Linked DNA regions of Homo sapiens: region 2 is linked to region 1. The links come from fine-mapping of genetic effects on gene expression. A gene starts in region 1. The other region holds a variant in brackets. All regions are shown on one strand. Distances are from middle to middle.

Region 1 (8,323 bases):
AGAGCTTTCTGGAAGGGACCGCGGGCTCCCTGCAGGTCAGTGCCCCTCCCGCCGCCTCTGAGTCCGCAGCTCGGCCCCGGGAGCCCCTGGGTGCCCAGTGCAGACCCACCTGCCCCATCTGACGGGCGGGCTCGGGCTGGGGGCAGGCGGACCCTGCAGCAGGTGCAGCGGGGCGAGCGCGGAGAGCGGGCACGGGGACAGGCGGGGGCGGGGCACCCGCACTCACCTCTGCGGTCGGCGTAGAGGACACCCAAGGCCACCAGGGCAGCGGTCACCAGCAGCAGCAGCAGCAGCAGCCCCCCCTCCAGGAACCCCGGGCGCTTCTGCCCTGCACGGCCGGCGCTCTCCACCATCCCCACTGGGCCTTCGGACTTCCCCATCAGCAGGGCTCTGGACGGGAGAGCACCGCGGAGGAACCTGCAGGCCCAGGGCAGGGGAGAGGGGAGAGGGGCGTGGAGCTCCCCGAGCCCGGCCCGAGGCTGGAAGGGCCGGATGCTGGCTGGGAGCGGGCGCTGGGTGCCTTTGGAACACTCTTCCCGTCTCCCTCTCCAAGCTCACAACCCTGGGTGACTGGGTCCCGGGACTTTCCACACTACCCCTGGGCCGGAATCTCTGAGTGCATGGAGGTTCTAGGACTGGGATGCTCCCAGCTTGGGGTCGCAAGCTGGACCCAGGAGGCTCAGCTCCTGTGCTGTCAAGGGACTCCTGTAGTGGAGCCCCCCCCCTGGGCTGCTCATGCTGGTTGTCTTGGAGCTGTGGGCCTGAGCGCTAGGTCAGGGACGCTGTCGGGGAGGCCACTTGGGCTTCTGGGCTCCCAGCCCACCTTTCCTGTTGAAGCCCAGAAGCCAGTGATGGGCGACACCAGAACAGTAGGTACCCACACAGGCGGTGACTACGTGGGCCAGGAAGGGATCTGCAGGGCCAGGCAGGCTTGAGTCTCAACCCTGGCAGCCACCTGGCTGGTGTGCAGCTCTGGTCGTCCCCTGACCCTGTTACTATGGAGGGGACACCTTCTGGAGCCAGCAGGGCAGTGGGCAGCACTTGAAGACACACACGGCTGGGCACAGGCTGCTGCTGTAGGCAGGACAGGGAGCTGGGCAGGAAGGGTTGGGGCACAGGACACTGGACTCAGGAGGCTCCCAAGTCTGCGTGCTCCAGTGTGCGTGTATGTGTGGGAGTGTGAACCTGAGTGTACACATGTGTGCAAATGAGTGTGTGCATGTAGTTGGGCGTGTGCATGTGTATGACTGTGCGTGTGTGCATATGTTCTGATGTATGATCGTGTACACACACGTGTGCACATGTTCTGGTGTGTGCATGTGCATGACTGCATGAGCGTGAACGTGTGTGTGCGCTCTGGTGTGTGCATGTGTGTGTGTGCACGTGTGTGCGTGTGCTCTCGTGTGTGCGTGTGCATGATTGCGTGGATATGCACTGTCTACGCTCATGTGTGCATGTGTGTGACTGTGAGTGAGTGTGCACGTGTGTGTCCTCGTGTGTGCATGTGTGTGACTGCACGTGTGTGCCTGTGCTCGCGTGTGTGCGTGTGCATGATTATGTGTGCGGATATGCACGTGTGTGCGTGTACACTCGTGTGTGCACGTGTGTGACTGTGTGATTGTGCACGTGTGCGTGTGCTCTCATGTGTGCATGTGCATTATGTGGATATGCACGTGTGTGCCTGAGTGTGCACGTGTGTCCTCTCGTGTGTGCGTGTGCATGATTATGTGCGTGGATATGCACCTGTGTGCGTGTACTCTCGTGTGTGCATGTGTGTGACTGTGCATTGTGTGCGTGTGCTCTTGTGTGTGCATGTGCATGATTGTGTGCGTGGATATGCACGTGTGTGCGTGTACGCTCGTGTGTGCACGTGTGTGACTGTGATTGTGCACCTGTGCGTGTGCGCTCATGTGCATGTGCATGATTGTGTGTGTGGGTGTGCACGTGTGTGCGTGTGCTCTGGTGTGTGGCTGTGCATGTCTGTGTGTGTGTGCACATATGTGAGCACATGCATGGATGTGCACATCCCTCGCTGGCACTCGGAGCCCTGCTGGGAAGTTGCCCGGTCCTAGGGAAGCGGCTGGGTGCTTTGGCCTTCCAGCACTTTCAGTCGTCACACGCAATCACACACCTGCTGTGCTGAGCCCCAGCTTAGCCCTGTACCAGGCAGGGCGGATAATGTGGGAGCAGCGAAAGGAAGCCAGGCCCAGTCCTGCCTGTGGGTGGGTCAGGGACTGGCTGCTGAGACTGCCAGCACCTGGGCTAAATGTGCTTCCGCCCCCCTGTACCCCACCGCCCCCCTGCTGTGGACTTTGCCTGAGTTCTGTCCCTGACTCCCTGGGAGATCCTAGATGTCCCTTAGCCTGTCTGGGCAACACCCTGCAAAGGTGGCTGGGCCAGCTCATTTCAGCGACTCCTCCAGAGATCCCTGACCTCTGGCTGTGTGAGGAGCGGGGACGGGGACCTGGACCTCACTCCTCTCCTCCAGGTCCCTCGCTCCTCCCTTCCTGTCCCCTCAGCCACCTCTCTCAGTCCCTGGCTCTGTGAACCGCAGCGTTCATGCATCCACACACCCTCAGATGCTTCCTTTGACGCCCTCTGCTGTGCCCCTAGACACCCCTATCCCGCCACTGGCTGAAGCTGGACTTTGGAGCCATCTGCCTCCCTTGCCTGCGTCCACACCCCGCGCCAGTCCTCAGCCTCCAAGCCCATCTCAGTCGGACCCTTTCTCATTCCTGCCACTCGCTGCCTGTTCCAGGCCCCACCAATCACCTCCCCCTGAGGGGTCTGTCTCACCCACTGATCCCCACCACAGGGGCCCAGGGGCCTGTAACTAGAATCAGAGGCCGTCACTCCCTGGCCCCTGGTAGCCAAACCCTTGGAGGAAGAGCCGGGCCTTGCCCTGATGTCAGGACCCTCTTTGGCCCTCCTCCCCTCTCACTATGCCCTCCCCTTACCCTCAGGCAGGCCCACCAGGTTTCTCCCCCCACCCTCCCCACCCACCCAGGCAGGCCTCCCAGATTCCTGCCAAGCTCCCCTTCCCAGTGGGGCCTTCCTTGGCTCGGCCTCGGGTTCAACTCGGGGAGCCCCAGCCCCTCCCCTGCTCTGTGTCTCTCCAGGGACTCCCAGCTCCACCTCCACATCTCCTCGATACTTCTGCAGCCCCCTGGGAACGTCAGCTCCACGGGCAGGGGCACCCTCTGTGGGGGCCGCTTCACCTAGACTGGCACCCCCACCCCAGAGACCTCGGTCATTATCTGTTGGGTGAATGAATGAATGAATGATGAATGAATGGATCAATCATTTGGACAAGTCTGAGCTCAGCTTCCACGAACTTCTTTCTTTGGTCAGAATTAATGAATCTGCTCCTGCGTCCTGAATTCATTCTGTCCTGCAGGTATCCACAGACGGCTCCATGTGCCCCACGGCACACACAAAATAAACACCTTCAAATTGAGCCAAGTACCCGGGGCAGGTGTGGAGTGTCTGCTGAGGCGAAGGCACTGCGGCTCCCTGGGGACACTCGTGGCCTCTCCAGGTTACTACAGATGGGGGACAGCGGGTCCTTTGGGTAAGATAAACCGTATGCCAGAGGGGGCTGCCTGCCCTGGCACAGGCGAGACTGCACACAGGACGCCCTGCCCAGCCTCCTGAGAAAGGGGCTGAGCGCCTGGAGAGGGTTTCAAGGCCCAGGAGAGGGCCTGGAGAGGGTTTCAAGGCCCAGGAAAGCAGGCCGGGTACCTTCCTTCAGCACAACTCACCTTTGCTCACTCAGGAGTGGCTGCCGCCCACAGTCAGGCCCCTGGAGACTGGGTCCCAGTGGGTTGGAGTTGGGGTGAGCTGGGCCAAGTGGGTGGATTTCCAGGGACTGGGATGGGAGAGCAGTGGCTTGGGGCTGAGTTGAGGCTGCCTGAAGGCTTCTGGGCCTCCTTTGTGATGCAGGCATGGGCTCCCTGGAGGCGGTGACTCCTGCTCACAGTCAGGAGGTTCCACTGGGGGTGTGGCATGGGGGGAGGGGCTGAGGGCAGCTTCTTGGCACCCGGGCTGCCCTGCCTCATGGGTGCCCTTCTCAGGGCCTCTGGCCCCGCCTCCCAAGCCGCCCTCCTTCCTTGCTTCTGTCTCCTGACCTTTCAGTCCAAAGGGGCCCCAGGGGCTGCTGGGAGGAAGGTCAGGCCCTTGTCCTACTCCACACCCTCTGCTCTGCCCCTAACCACCCGGTGGGGGGTTACAAAGGCCCCACCCTGGGTGTTCTTTCTCTTCAATCTCCAAGGAGGATGGTGGGTTCTGGGGATCTTGCCAAGGTGCAAGGGGAAGGGGTGGTCCTGAAGGGGGTGGGCGCTGGCTGCCAGGAGGGTCCCACCCAGAGATACTAGCCTGGGTTTGGCTGCTTCCCTCTGCCCACAGAAAACTCATGAGGTTCAGACCTCAAGCTACAGAGGGTGGGCAGCCCTGGCCGGGGAGCTGGCAGAAGGGCTCTGTGGCTTCTGAAGGGTTCGCAGTGATCAGAGTGTGAGCCCTGCACCCAGCCCTGCTTGCGGACGGGGGTTCTGGGCAGAGCAGTCTCTGTCTGATTCTCCAGGCCTGATGAGGTTTCTAGCTTCTGTTTCAGAATCCCCAGAACGAGTCCTCCTGCCCAGGCCTTGGGCATGTGTCAGGGCATCTGGGCAGGGCTGGGCCACAGAGCTAGGGGTCCCACGGCAAACTGCTCCTCACGGCCGCCCCGGCCAGGTCTCCCACGCTGAGTGCTGTTGGAAGCTTTGTCTATGGCCCTTTAGGTTGGCCAGGCCCTGGGAGGAGAAAGGCTTCGAGCTGCAGCCAGGCTGGGATCAGATCCCAGACACCACCCTGAGCCCGGGAAGTCTCTCCCTGGGGCCCGCTGGCTGTCCTAGCAGCCCCCTGCCATCACGCCCAGCAACCAGCCCAGGAGCTGCAGTCTGGCCTCAGGCTGCCTGGGTTGCTGGCCCAAATGGAAACAATGTCAAGGCCAGCCAAGCAGGAAGCTGGGACCGCCCTTTCTGGGGAGCTGGGAGTGGGCCAGGGTCCAGCCTGGCTGGAGGCTCCTGCTATGGGGAGAGGCCAGAGCCTTTCCGAGCCCACCTGCCCGACAGCCCTGGTGCCAGCAGGCCCTTTCTGGATGTCACAGTGTTCTTGTCTCTAAGGTACAAATCCACAGAGGGAGAAACAGATGCAGGGGCCTGGCCTACTCTCAGCAGGGGCTCCCTGGACTCTGAACCGACTCCCCAAGGCTGGCCCTGTGCATGCTCCTCCTTCCCGAACCCCAGGCCTGTCCAGCCCAGCAGCCCCCAGCCTGGCCCAAGGCCACCTGGTGACCTGGGCTGCCAAACTTGGGACCCCTTATTCCCAGGTTCTCCCTACTTCTAGGTGACAGCAGGAGGCTTGGGTCCTAGCCTGGCACCTGCCAGACAAGAGAAACTGGGAAAGGAGGCTAAAGGCCAAGGAGGCTGCAGACCCCGAGACCTACCCCGGTCACTGGACACTCACAGATTTGCAGGTGCCCAGGGCAGTGCAACCCAGCCGCCCCAAACACCTGCACAGATGACTCTCTCCCCAGACACCCGCACAGACCGTCCCCCCAGACACCCACACAGACCATCCCCCCAGACACCCACACAGACCATCCCCCCAGACACCCACACAGACCATCCCCCCAGACACCCGCACAGACCATCCCCCCAGACAACCTACACAGAATAAACTGTCCCCCCAGATACCTACACAGACCATCCCCCCAACACCCACACAGACCATGCCCCCAAACACCCACACAGACTGTCCCCCCAAACACCCACACAGACCATCCCAACACCCACATAGACCATGCCCCCAAACACTCACACAGACTGGCCCCCCAAACACCCACACAGACCATCCCCCCAACACCCACATAGACCATGCCCCCAAACACCCACACAGACTGTCCCCCCAGACACCCGCACAGACCATCCCAACACCCACATAGACCATGCCCCCAAACACCCACACAGACTGTCCCCCCAGACAACCTACACAGAATAAACTGTCCCCCCAGACACCCACACAGACCATCCCCCCAGACACCCGCACAGACCATCCCCCGCAAATACCTGCATGGATTGTCCCCCCAGACACCCGCATAGCCAGAGCCCAGCACCCCGGAGGTGGACATTAATCCCATCTCCTAGGGAGATTGGGGGAAAATGGGTGTTCCCTGCCCCTCCTACTCTCTGGGTTGCTGTGGGATGTGGAGATCCAAGGAGCAGCCCCAGCTCAGGGGTCCAAGGAGGCAGGTGGGACGGGGGTCAGGGAAGTGCTTCCTGCAGCAGCCCTGGGGCCAGGGTGGGCCTTGAGGGCACTAGCCTTTGTCCACACTGCTGTGGGGCTGCCCTCACCCAGGTTGCCGTGTCCACCCTGCCTTGGGGGCTGCCCTCAGGCCCTGGAGACGCCTGCCTGTGACTGCCCCACACTCTCAGGCCAGGCTACTGGTGGCAGGTCCTGTGCTTTGGTGCACCCCAGACGTGCCCAACGGGCATTTCCTCTGCCCATTGGGAGCAGGGCCTCTCCCTCAGGTCTGCCCAGCTACGCTCTGGGCAGGAATGAGGTGCCCCACTTAGAGAAGATGCACAGGTCAGAAGAGGCTCACCAGCATTTCTGGGTGAGCCTCTTTCCGGCTGCTGGGACGACAGCCGGGCCTCTGGGGTCCCCACCTTCCTTGTCAGCTGCCTCCTGAAGTCAGGCCCTGGGTATCCAGGGCAGGAGGGAAGGGGCCCAGTGGTCCCGCTGCCCCAAAATCTGTGTCATTGAGCCACCAGCCCATCCCCAGTAGCTGGAGCCTCTGCCTCCTCACTTGTGAATTCCAAAAATCTGAGACAGGTCTCAGCCAATTTGGGAAGTTTATTTTGCCAAAATTAAGGATGCACACCTGTGACACAGCCTCAGGAGGTCCTGACATGTGCCCAAGGTGGTCAGAGGACAGCTTGGTTTTATACATTTTAGGGAGATATGAGACATCAATCAACACATGTAAGATAGAGTTACATTCTTTTGAGTTTCTGATGAGCCTTTCCAAAGAAGGCAATCAGATATGCATCTATCTCAGCGAGCGGGGGAATGACTTTGAATGGAATTGGAGGCAGGCTTGCCCTAAGCAGTTCCCAGCTTGACTTTTCCCTTTGGCTTAGTGATTTTGGGGCCCCAAGATTTATTTTCCTTTTACTCTCCTAAAAAGGTTTTTTTTTTTTCTTTTTTTTCCAGATTGATCGCAGAGTTGAACAACAGAGAATGTGTGCACAGTGCCAGGCACAGGTGTGGTCAAGATTCACCTGGGAGAGGAAGTGGGCAGGGGCAGAGGAGTGTGCCCACCTGAGCTGAAAGGCTGCATGGCAGGTGACCATTATCACCAGTGTCGCCAGCCAGGTCACCTCTCTGAATTTTGTGGTTGCAACCTCCATGATTCCCTAGAGCTGTTTTTACCCAGAACTAATGAAAAATTCTGCACATTAAATTCATGCTATTAGAATCACTGTTGTGGTTTCCATCTCCCAAGTAGACCCCAACTGATACATAAATTCATACTAGGAGGGGGTCCCCAGAGACAGGCCCTCAAAGTGACACAGTCAGGTACCTCTTTGGTCACTTTGCCAGCCAGGTACCTCTGGCTGCTGACACCCCCCCTCCCCAGGCCTCTCTTGGCCATGCTACCTGCCGCAGGAGGTGGCCCACCCACTCAGCCTGCCTGGGCCACACCTGGCTGTTCACCAGCTCAGCCTGTGGCTGGGCTGGGCATGTTCCAGCCTGCTTGTGTTATAGCTTGTACCCATGTATGGCAGTTCCCAAGTTCTTGTCCCGTGTCCAAGAAGAATGAGGAGATGCTGCCAATCGAAGTGTGAGAAGGGCAGAGAAGAATTTTATTGAGAGACGGAACAGCTCTCAGCAGAGAGGGGATGCACGGGTGGTTCCCGACCTGAAGTCAGGTGGTTTCTCTCCTAGTGTGGCTGGGTCCGGGGCATTTATGGGCTCAGAATGGGGGAGTGCATGCTGATTGGCTTCTGATTATGCAAAAAAGGCTTAAACAAAGGTACCACTCAAAGGTGGGCATGCCAGTGTAGAAAATGAATTAGGAAAAGATAGGTACATGTAAAATAGGTGAAGGGTGGGGATCAATCAGAGGAAAGCAGCCAAATGGGAAGATGGGTTCTCAATCCAGGCTGAGGATTTAATTTGTAGCTTGGCTTTCAGGCTTTAAACTGTCTTTGGCTCGGAGGTGGGGTTTCACTGGGAACCTGTCCCTGTCTGCCTAGGATTTGTCTGCCTCCTGTCACTATCA
Region 2 (8,323 bases), 31 kb before region 1:
TGGGCGCCTCGCCCTGCCTCGTCCATGGCTGTGACCCTGGTGTGGACCTCGGTGTTTGCCTACAGCTTATGCTCAGCATCGTGGCCTGAATGAATGAGTGCCCGGCCAGGCTCTGGGCAGGGAAGGGGCTCACCTTGCGGTAGTTCACTCGTGTGTCCTTGAATCTCTGGCTTAGGCTACCAATGCGGTCCAGCACCAGGCGCCAGACCAGGTAGTTCTGTATGGTCCTGGGGGCAGAAGGTAGAGGGTGAGGGGAGAACAGGTGAGAGGTCTTTGCAAGGGAGGAGATATGGCTTAGGGCCCTTGGCCAGCACGTTCCACCCCAGAGAGTTATGGGTGCTGGAGAAAACCTCCAGGACAACCACCTCCAAGATCCAGCCCATCTGCCCCGGGTGCTTGGGATGTGACACATTTTTAATGTAAGACTCCACTGGCCACTAAAGCTTAACCCCTCATGTCCCACACCCCTCAGGGCAGATGCTTCATAGGGTCCCCTCCTGGGAGCAGAAGCTGTGTTGGGGAGGATGGGAGAGCAGGGGCAAAGATGCTGAGGCCTTTGGAGACCCTCCCTGGGCCTCACCTGGCTGAGTAGGTGTCGATGATGTTTTCAAGGTTCTGCAGGTAGGGGATGCCATAGACCACCACTTCCTCATCTGGCAGCAGCTTGATTTTGACAGAGGATAGCACAGTTTGTATGAACAGAGTCCAGTTAAATCCCTGCAGATAGAGGAAGTGGGGAGAAAGAGGGAGAGAGAGAGAGGGAGAAACAGTTCCTGGGAATCTAAGAAACCCAGCCCCTGTTGAAGAATGTTCAAGGAATAAGAGAGAAGTGCAGGTAATCAGAATCAGGAAAGGGTGGGTGACATTATTACAGAGCCTACAGCTGTAAAAACCCAAGCGATCATGCAGATATATGCGAAAGCCTAAGTATAACAGGCAAGTTCCTAGAAAAACACAACTTAGCAAAAATGACAAAAAAAGAAATAGAAAATATGAATAGTCTTCTAGGTTAAATAAATGGAATATTTAATTTGAAACTTTCCAATAAAGAAATTTCCAGACCCATTTGGCTTCACCAGTGGATTCTATCTGACATTTAAGGAAAACTGCCAATCTTATTAAAACTTTCCAGAGATGAGAAAATGCTTTTCAACTTGATTTATGAGGCCAAGAATAACCTTGATACCAAAATAAGGATATTATAAGCAGAGTAAATAATAAGCCAGTCTCGTTTATGTCATAGATACAAAAGTTCTAAGCAAAATATTAGCAAATAGAACCTAGCCATACTTGTATAAAATGCTAATATATCACAGCTGAATTAGATTTATTCAAGGAATACAAGTTTGGTGTAACATTTGAAAATAAAATAATTTTAATTCACTACAATAACTGAATAAAGGAGGAAAGTCACATGATTATTTCAACAGATGCAGAAAAAGCATTTGATAAAATCTGCCATCTATTCATAATAAAAACTCTTGGCAAATAAAAATAGAAGGGGTCAGCCACAGTGGCTCACGCCTGTAATCCCAACACTTTGGGAGGTCGAGGCGGGCAGATCACCTGAGGCCAGGAGTTCAAGGCCATGCTGGCCAACATGGTGAAACCCTGTGTCTACTAAAAATGCAAAAATTAGCTGGGTGTGGTGGCGCATGCTGTAGTCCCAGCTACTTGGGAGGCTGAGGCATGAGAATCGCTTGAACCTGGGAGGCAGAGGTTATGGTGAGCTGAGATCACTCCACTGCGCTCCAGCCTGGGCAACAGAGCAAGACTTTGTCTCAAAAAAAAAAAAAAGATAAAAAGAAAAATAGAAGGAAAATTCTATAACCTGATAAAGGAAATGTATGAAGCAGCAGAAGCAACAAAAACAACTCCATAGCAAACATAACTTTTTTTTAAATTTATTTTTGAGACAGAGTCTCGCTTTGTTGCCCAGGTTCAAGTGCAGCAGTGCAATCTTGGGTCACTGCAACCTCTGACCCCTGGGTTCAAGCAATTCTGCTGCCTCAGCCTCCCTAGTAGCTGAGATTACAGGCATGTGCTAACACACCTAGCTAGTTTTTGTATTTTTAGTAGAGACAGGGTTTCACCATGTTGGCCAGGCTGGTCTCAAGCTCCTGACCTCAGGTGATCCACCTGCCTCGGCCTCCCAAAGTGCTGGGATTACAGGCATGAGCCACCATGCCTGGCCAAACATAAAATTTAGTGGTAAGAATATACGTGCTTTTCTTTTAATGTCTACTATTATGACATCAGCATTATGCTCAAAATCCTGTCCAGTTCAGTAAAAGCAAACATGAAATAAAGCCAGTAAGAACTGAAAGAGAATAAATAAAACTGGACCAGGTGCGGTGGCTCATGCCTGTAATCCCAGCACTTTGGGAGGCCAGGGCGGGAGGACTGCTTGAGCACAGGAGTTCAAGACCAGCCTGGCCAACATAGAGAAACCCTGTTTCTGGGAAAAAAAAAAAAATCAGGCAAGGCTTGGTCATGGTGTATTCCTGTGGTCGCAGCTACTCAGGAGGCTTGAGCCCAAGAGGTCAAGGCTGCAGTGAGCCATGACTGTGCCACTCCACTCCAGTCTGCATGACAGAGTGAGACCCTGTCTCAAACAAACAAACAAACAAACAAAACCCAACCCCCCTGTTTTTTTACAAATGATATGATTTTGTTTATTCTACAAATAAATAACCAGAACTAATAAGTGCATTGAGTAAGACTGCATATTTACAAAGTCAGTATTTCCATATATCAGCAACAAATAAGATAATTTCAAAATGATTCTATTTATAGTAGAAAACCAAACACCTGTAATTTATCTAATAAAATATGTATAAGAACTTGACACTGAAAGCTTTAAAAGTTATTAAGAAAAATTGAAGCATAAATGGAAGCATATATCATGTTCATGGATTGGAAGACTCAGCATTGCAAAGTCTCCCCAAATTGATAGAGAGATTCAAAGTGATCCCTATCAAATTTCTAGCAGAGTTTTCTTTTTGTGTGTGTGCGTGTATGCAAATGGAAGGCAGATTTTAAGTTTTATGTGAAAATGCAAAGGACTGAGAATTATCAAGACACTCTTGAAGAACAAAGTTGAAATATATACTCTATTGACTATCAAGACATTATAAAGCTGAAGGAGTGATGGTGGTAGGGGTTATCACTTGGATAGATAAAGAGACCAGTGGGGCAAAAGAGAGTCCAGAAATATACATATGGGCCCACGCATAGACACACAGGAACACCTGATTTATAACACAGAAGGCACCAAGACCAGGGGCTCACAGGGGGCTCTTTTTAATAAATGGTGCTGAATGACTGGAAATCCATAAGAAAGAAACAATTCCTACATCTCACTGTCCATTAAAAAAATCAACTCACAGTAGATTGTAGACCTAAGCAAACCTGAGGGTAGGCAAAGAGTTCTTTAGCAGAACACAAAGAATACTAACCACGAAGAAGAGATCTGCACACATTTGCTAAGCCAATAAATTGGACCATTTAATAGCCTCCATTGAAACAAAGAAACCCTTATGAGAGTAAAAAAGCAAGCTGCCCAGTGGGGAGAACATTTGTACACATAAGCTGACCAAGGAGTCACATCTAAAATAGGTAACTCCAAGAATCAATCAGAGAAAGATCGCCCGATAGAACAAATGGGCAAGACTCAAACAGACGTTCCACAAAAGGGAATGGCATTGGCCAATTGACAGGAGATGGCGTTTAACCTCCTCCGCCCTTGGGGAAAGTCACATTGAACCCAGATGAAACCCCACTACACAGGTGCAGAAACGGCTGAGAACGGACACCACCCAGCACGGGCGAGGGTGTGGCACCAGCCGCTGTTGGGGAGCGCACATCCCTGGATAATTCTGGGGAAAGACAGTGCCTGTTACTGTTGAACAGATGCGTGTGCTTCCACCCAGCAATTCCACTCCTACCCACTTGCCTGCCACAGGCACACACAGGCATGGGCATGACAACATCACTCAGAAAAGGCCCAGAGACAGCACAGTGGGACCCGAGTTGTCGCATGTTCTTAGAGTCAGAGGCCACTCAGCAATCTAGAGGCCACGTCAGGGACCGGCCTCCCTCCAGGGAGAAGTCAGGGTCTCTTCTCCAGGGAAGGAGGCAGGCACAGGGGCTAGGCAGGGGCATGTGGGGGCTTCTGGGATGTCGGTGGTCACGTAAGTCTTGATCTGAGGGGTGATTGTGTGGATGTGTTCACTCTGGGGCGATTCTGAACATCATAAATGCATTGTAAACCAAATGT[C/T]CCCAAACCCTGGGCTCCTGGACGCTCCCCTGAACCTGCCGCTGTGATGTCTCCACGGCAACCTCAGGCCATCTGAGCTCTCTCACTTCCATATTTAGTCCTTTTGCAAACCCTGTTGGCTCCACTTCCAAAATCAACCCCAAAGCCACCTCCACCACGGGCACCCCCCTTGGCAGAGCTGCCATCTCTTGCCCGGGCTACGTGGCAGCCTCTGATTGGCTTCTCTGCCACCTGCCCCGTCCCCTTCACTCACTCTTACTTGTGAACCAGGTCACGTCCTGTCATACCCCCACTCCTCTCGGGCAGAGTCTGAGACTTTCAAGTGGCCCCCGAGGTCGGACACGGCATCCCCCGCTTTACTTCCTACTCCATCTCTCTCTAGCCCCGGTGCTCATTAGCTGGGAGTCCCTGCCCCAGACTCTTGGGGAACTGCTGTGTGAGCCACACTGGCCCCAGATGGCCATGGCCCTTGGTTCTCTGCAAGGCTTTACCTCCTGTCTGCTGTCCTGGCTGAGCTCATCCTGCCCCCTTTCTGGCTTTCTGACACGTTTTAGAGGTCACTCCGCTTTTCTGTCCCTCTCCCGCACCGGAACCTCGATCGAGATAGGCCTTTGTTTGGGAAGGGGATAAAGCCCAGTGCCAGAGCAGAGCCTGGCCCCACTGCGTGTGTTCTGGGCAGCGGGGTGTTGGGGAAGGTGTGTCCCCGCAGGCCAGCCCTGGGGACCAGAACCGATCTAGGGACCACCAGCCTTCCAAGGCACTAGGTGCCCTGGGGCGAGGCTCTCCCCAGAGTCTCTCTGTCTTGCCCTTGGCAAGAGCTGTGGCTCCAGACACTCAGGGACATACTCTGGTTGAGGGGGCAGGGGCTTTGGACCCCCTTCTGCCCTTGCCCTCCCCCCACTGACTTGGGCACCCTTTGCCGAAGCTGCACGCCTGCGCCTCCTGGGGGAGGAGGCCCTCGAGAAGGCCAGCTGCTCCAGCAGGGTGAGAGTCGGCTGAGGGAGTGGGGGACTTGCCCCTTCCCAGGCTGGGCTGCTCCTCTCCAGCCCCCACCTCAAAGCACAGGGCGGTGCCTGGCCTGGGCACTGGGCAGGGGAGCGCCTGAGGGTGTGGCCAGGGGGAACTGCTACCCTCAGGGCAGGCAGGACTGGGAGGAAGCACCCTGCTAAGGTTCTGAGCGGGACTTGGGGTCTGAGAGCCCTGGGTGGGACCCTGTACACCCCCACACATCAGCAGCCCCCTGAGGCCTCCGTTTCCTGCTCAGAAGACCGGGGCCATCACAGCACCGCACAGATGGGTGACTCTGTTCCAGGATGGCACAGTTGGCACTGCTGTCCCAGTGACATTAGTAATCGTGCTGGTGCTGCTCTGCAGCAAGTTTGGGTGATCAGGTACAGGGTCTCCCTGCTCGGGGATGGGGAATGTTTCTGAGCTTAAATGCCAGGCAACGTGCCCTCTCAGAGGGCCGCTTCCATGTCCCCCACGAGTCTCCACCCGGCCAGTGCCGGCCTCCTGTGTGGTGTGGCCTCACCTTCAGGCCAAACTGGCTTTGCAGCTCCTCCAGTCCCATCCGGTGGTACAAGGCGATGACGTCGTGTCTCTCCTCCTGGGGTACCGTGGCCTGTGCCGGGGATAGCAGTCACACGGGCGGGTGGCCAGGATGCCCCCTGGGGCTCCTGGCCCAGTCCCTGCCTGCTACCGGCCCACCCAGCACCCCCTCACCTTGGCCAGCCACACCGCCTGGGGCTCCCAGCCCACTCGCTGCCCGCTCCCCACCCGCCCCGGCCCCCTTACCTTGGCCAGCTGTGTCTCCAGCTCCAGCACCTGCACCATGTCCTCCTGCACCAGGCAGCTGTCCCTGGGCAGGTTTGCATCCTCCCGCAGCAACGTGGCCACTGACACCATGAACTGCAGGTAGGCTTCCCGCACCTGGGCCAAAGGACGCCGGGCAGAGCTGGGTGGCCTCAGCCACCATGGCCCCCAGGGAGTTTTCTGTGGGGGTGGGGTGGGCGTAGGACATGGGGAAGCCCCTAATGCGTGTCCACCCACCTTGACCAGCAGGCTCTCGGGCACACAGAGTGCCGAGTGGGAGCGTCTCAGACGCGTGACCTGTGCCCGAGCCACTGGACGGGGTACCTAGTCTGCAGGGCTGCTCAGGGCTTAAACTGTGTGGCTGCCTATAAGGGTTTGCACAGGTGGGTGCTGGGGCTCTCAGTGCTGGGGTTGGGGTGCTGGGCTTGGGGTGCCAGGGCTAACTTGGGCCTGCCGGGGCTGTGGGTGCCAGGGTGGTGGGTGCCGGGGTGGTGGGTGCCAGGGCTAATTTGGGCTTCCCTACCCAGGTGCTTCCCGGCCTGAGTGTCTGGAGTGGGATCCTGAGGAAGTTTGCTCCTCAGGGAGCTGCCTTCCTCGCGCTGGGCAGGGCTTCCCCAGTGCAGGCCAATGCTCTGGCCAGGCTTGGCCCATAGCTGCCTGGTCTGAACACATGGCCAGACATGGCGCTTTTGAGACACTCCAGTCCCTCCTGCTCTGGCGTGGTTCTCTCAGCCCCACTGCTCCACCTTTGGCCACACGGCCCTTCCTCTGGGCTTGGTCATCCTTCAAAGTCTAGTTCATAGCCCACCTCCACCAGGAGGCCCCCTGGATTGTGTCTGGCCCTCTGGGGCATTCATGCCTCATGCCTGTTCACCTCTGCCCTGGTGCTGGATGCCTTGCCCTCCTCACCTGCTCCCTGTCCTTCCCCACCCTTCCCTGCACCCTGGGCTAGCCCTGGGCCTGCCAGCCTCAAGGTCCCCTTGTCCACAGTGGGGGTCCTCATCCCTCCCCTCTCTTGACAGCCCCTTGAGATGGAGCAGGCTCGGGGCCCAGCTGCCTGCACTCAGATCTCCAGGGGCCCTCCTGGGAATCCGGTGCTGCAGAGCCTGGGTCTGTACTGACGGGAGGGGGATGACAGTTCTGCCCCATGGGGCTGCTGCTGAGCTGAGCTTGTCCCCAGGCCTGGCCCGGGTGTTGAGGGAACGTCCCCCAGGATGGTGGCAAGCAATAGGTCACGTCTGCACCCGCCACCCTCAGTGCCGGGCTCAACCTCCACAGGTGCTCACTAACACCAGCTTCGGGGAGGGAAGGCCAGGTGGGCAACGGGAAGGCCAGACCACGGGGTAGGGGGTGATGGGGGGGTCATCTGGCATTGCGGTGAGGACCCACCCACCTTCCGGTTGCTGCCGCCGTTGAAGTAGTACTCTCGGGAGGGCATGCCCAAGGTGGGCTGGTCTATCTGGAAATACAGAAGGTGTGACCCTGGGCAAGGGGCCCGGGGTCCCCGCAGCCTGGCTGAGGCAGGCTGCAGCCGCCTCCCCACAGGACTGTGCCCCGTGCACACGTGCTCTGCCCAGGAGCTGGTGGTGGAGCTTGTGCCGGACCCGGGAGGCCAGACCCTGCCCCGAGTGATGGTGGGGGCGCTGGGCTGGACTGGAGAGGGTGGCGGGGGTGGGGTGGGGAGGGGTTCAGGCTGTCCCGGGCCTCGCAGCACCCGCGGCTCCCCCAGAGTGGGGCGCGTATTTGTTTCGTGTGTTTCTCTTTGGCCTCCAGCCCGTGGCCAGCAGTGGATCCCTGAGGTCAGGCCTCCTGCCCCGGTTCCAGCCCCGCTGTTCAGGAGCCCCCGCCCCTCTGACCAGAACCGGGTTCTACTGTGGCCCCCAGCTTGGCCAGGAGGCCCAACAGAAACTCCAGCAGCAGCAGCTCGTTCCCGGGCCCACGGACGTGGACAGGAGCCAGGAGCCCAGGTCCCAGGAGACCCCGGAGCTCCCTGTCGGCCTGGCCCATCCTTCTGCTGTGCTGCAAGAGCCCCCAGCCAGGCTTGGGGACCCTGCCTACCCCTGCCCACCGGCGCGGCTCGTACGTAGATGATGTGCCGGCTGGAGTTCTGGTCGTCGTTCCAGATGAAGAGGTCGATGAGGACGCGCCTGTTGAACTGTGAGTTCATCAGCGCCAGCTGCCGCTCCAGCTCCCACTCGAGTCCTGGGGAGACAGTGCCCCGCACTGGAGACT

Direction of the effects. Alleles are on the strand shown, and positions count from the first base shown. SD is a standard deviation of normalised expression in the study named.
With allele T in place of C in region 2, the expression in esophagus muscle of the gene that starts at base 3,912 in region 1 is higher (large effect, 1.1 SD a copy in GTEx).

What was found. PIP is the estimated chance that this variant, and not a neighbour inherited with it, causes the effect.
Region 2: its variant is fine-mapped to the expression of MMEL1 in esophagus muscle (GTEx, PIP above 0.99).

Annotation. Positions count from the first base shown.
Region 1 is chr1:2,629,105-2,637,427 of GRCh38, forward strand. MMEL1 (membrane metalloendopeptidase like 1) reads right to left here and starts at 3,912. Exons shown (of 24, transcript NM_033467.4): 1 at 3,762-3,912; 2 at 227-417. The coding sequence starts at 380. TTC34 (tetratricopeptide repeat domain 34) reads right to left here. Exons shown (of 9, transcript NM_001242672.3): 9 at 7,882-8,323. It overlaps MMEL1-AS1 (MMEL1 antisense RNA 1), which reads left to right. Exons shown (of 3, transcript NR_183343.1): 2 at 3,398-3,571; 3 at 7,252-7,516. RefSeq lists a silencer at 166-460 and an enhancer at 1,642-2,142.
Region 2 is chr1:2,598,074-2,606,396 of GRCh38, forward strand. It overlaps MMEL1 (membrane metalloendopeptidase like 1), which reads right to left. Exons shown (of 24, transcript NM_033467.4): 8 at 8,175-8,293; 9 at 7,485-7,550; 10 at 6,074-6,208; 11 at 5,811-5,900; 12 at 581-717; 13 at 134-227. Among named protein-coding and RNA genes, the nearest start is that of PRXL2B, 15 kb to the left of the region's middle. The variant C/T (reference allele first, on the strand shown) is at 4,280.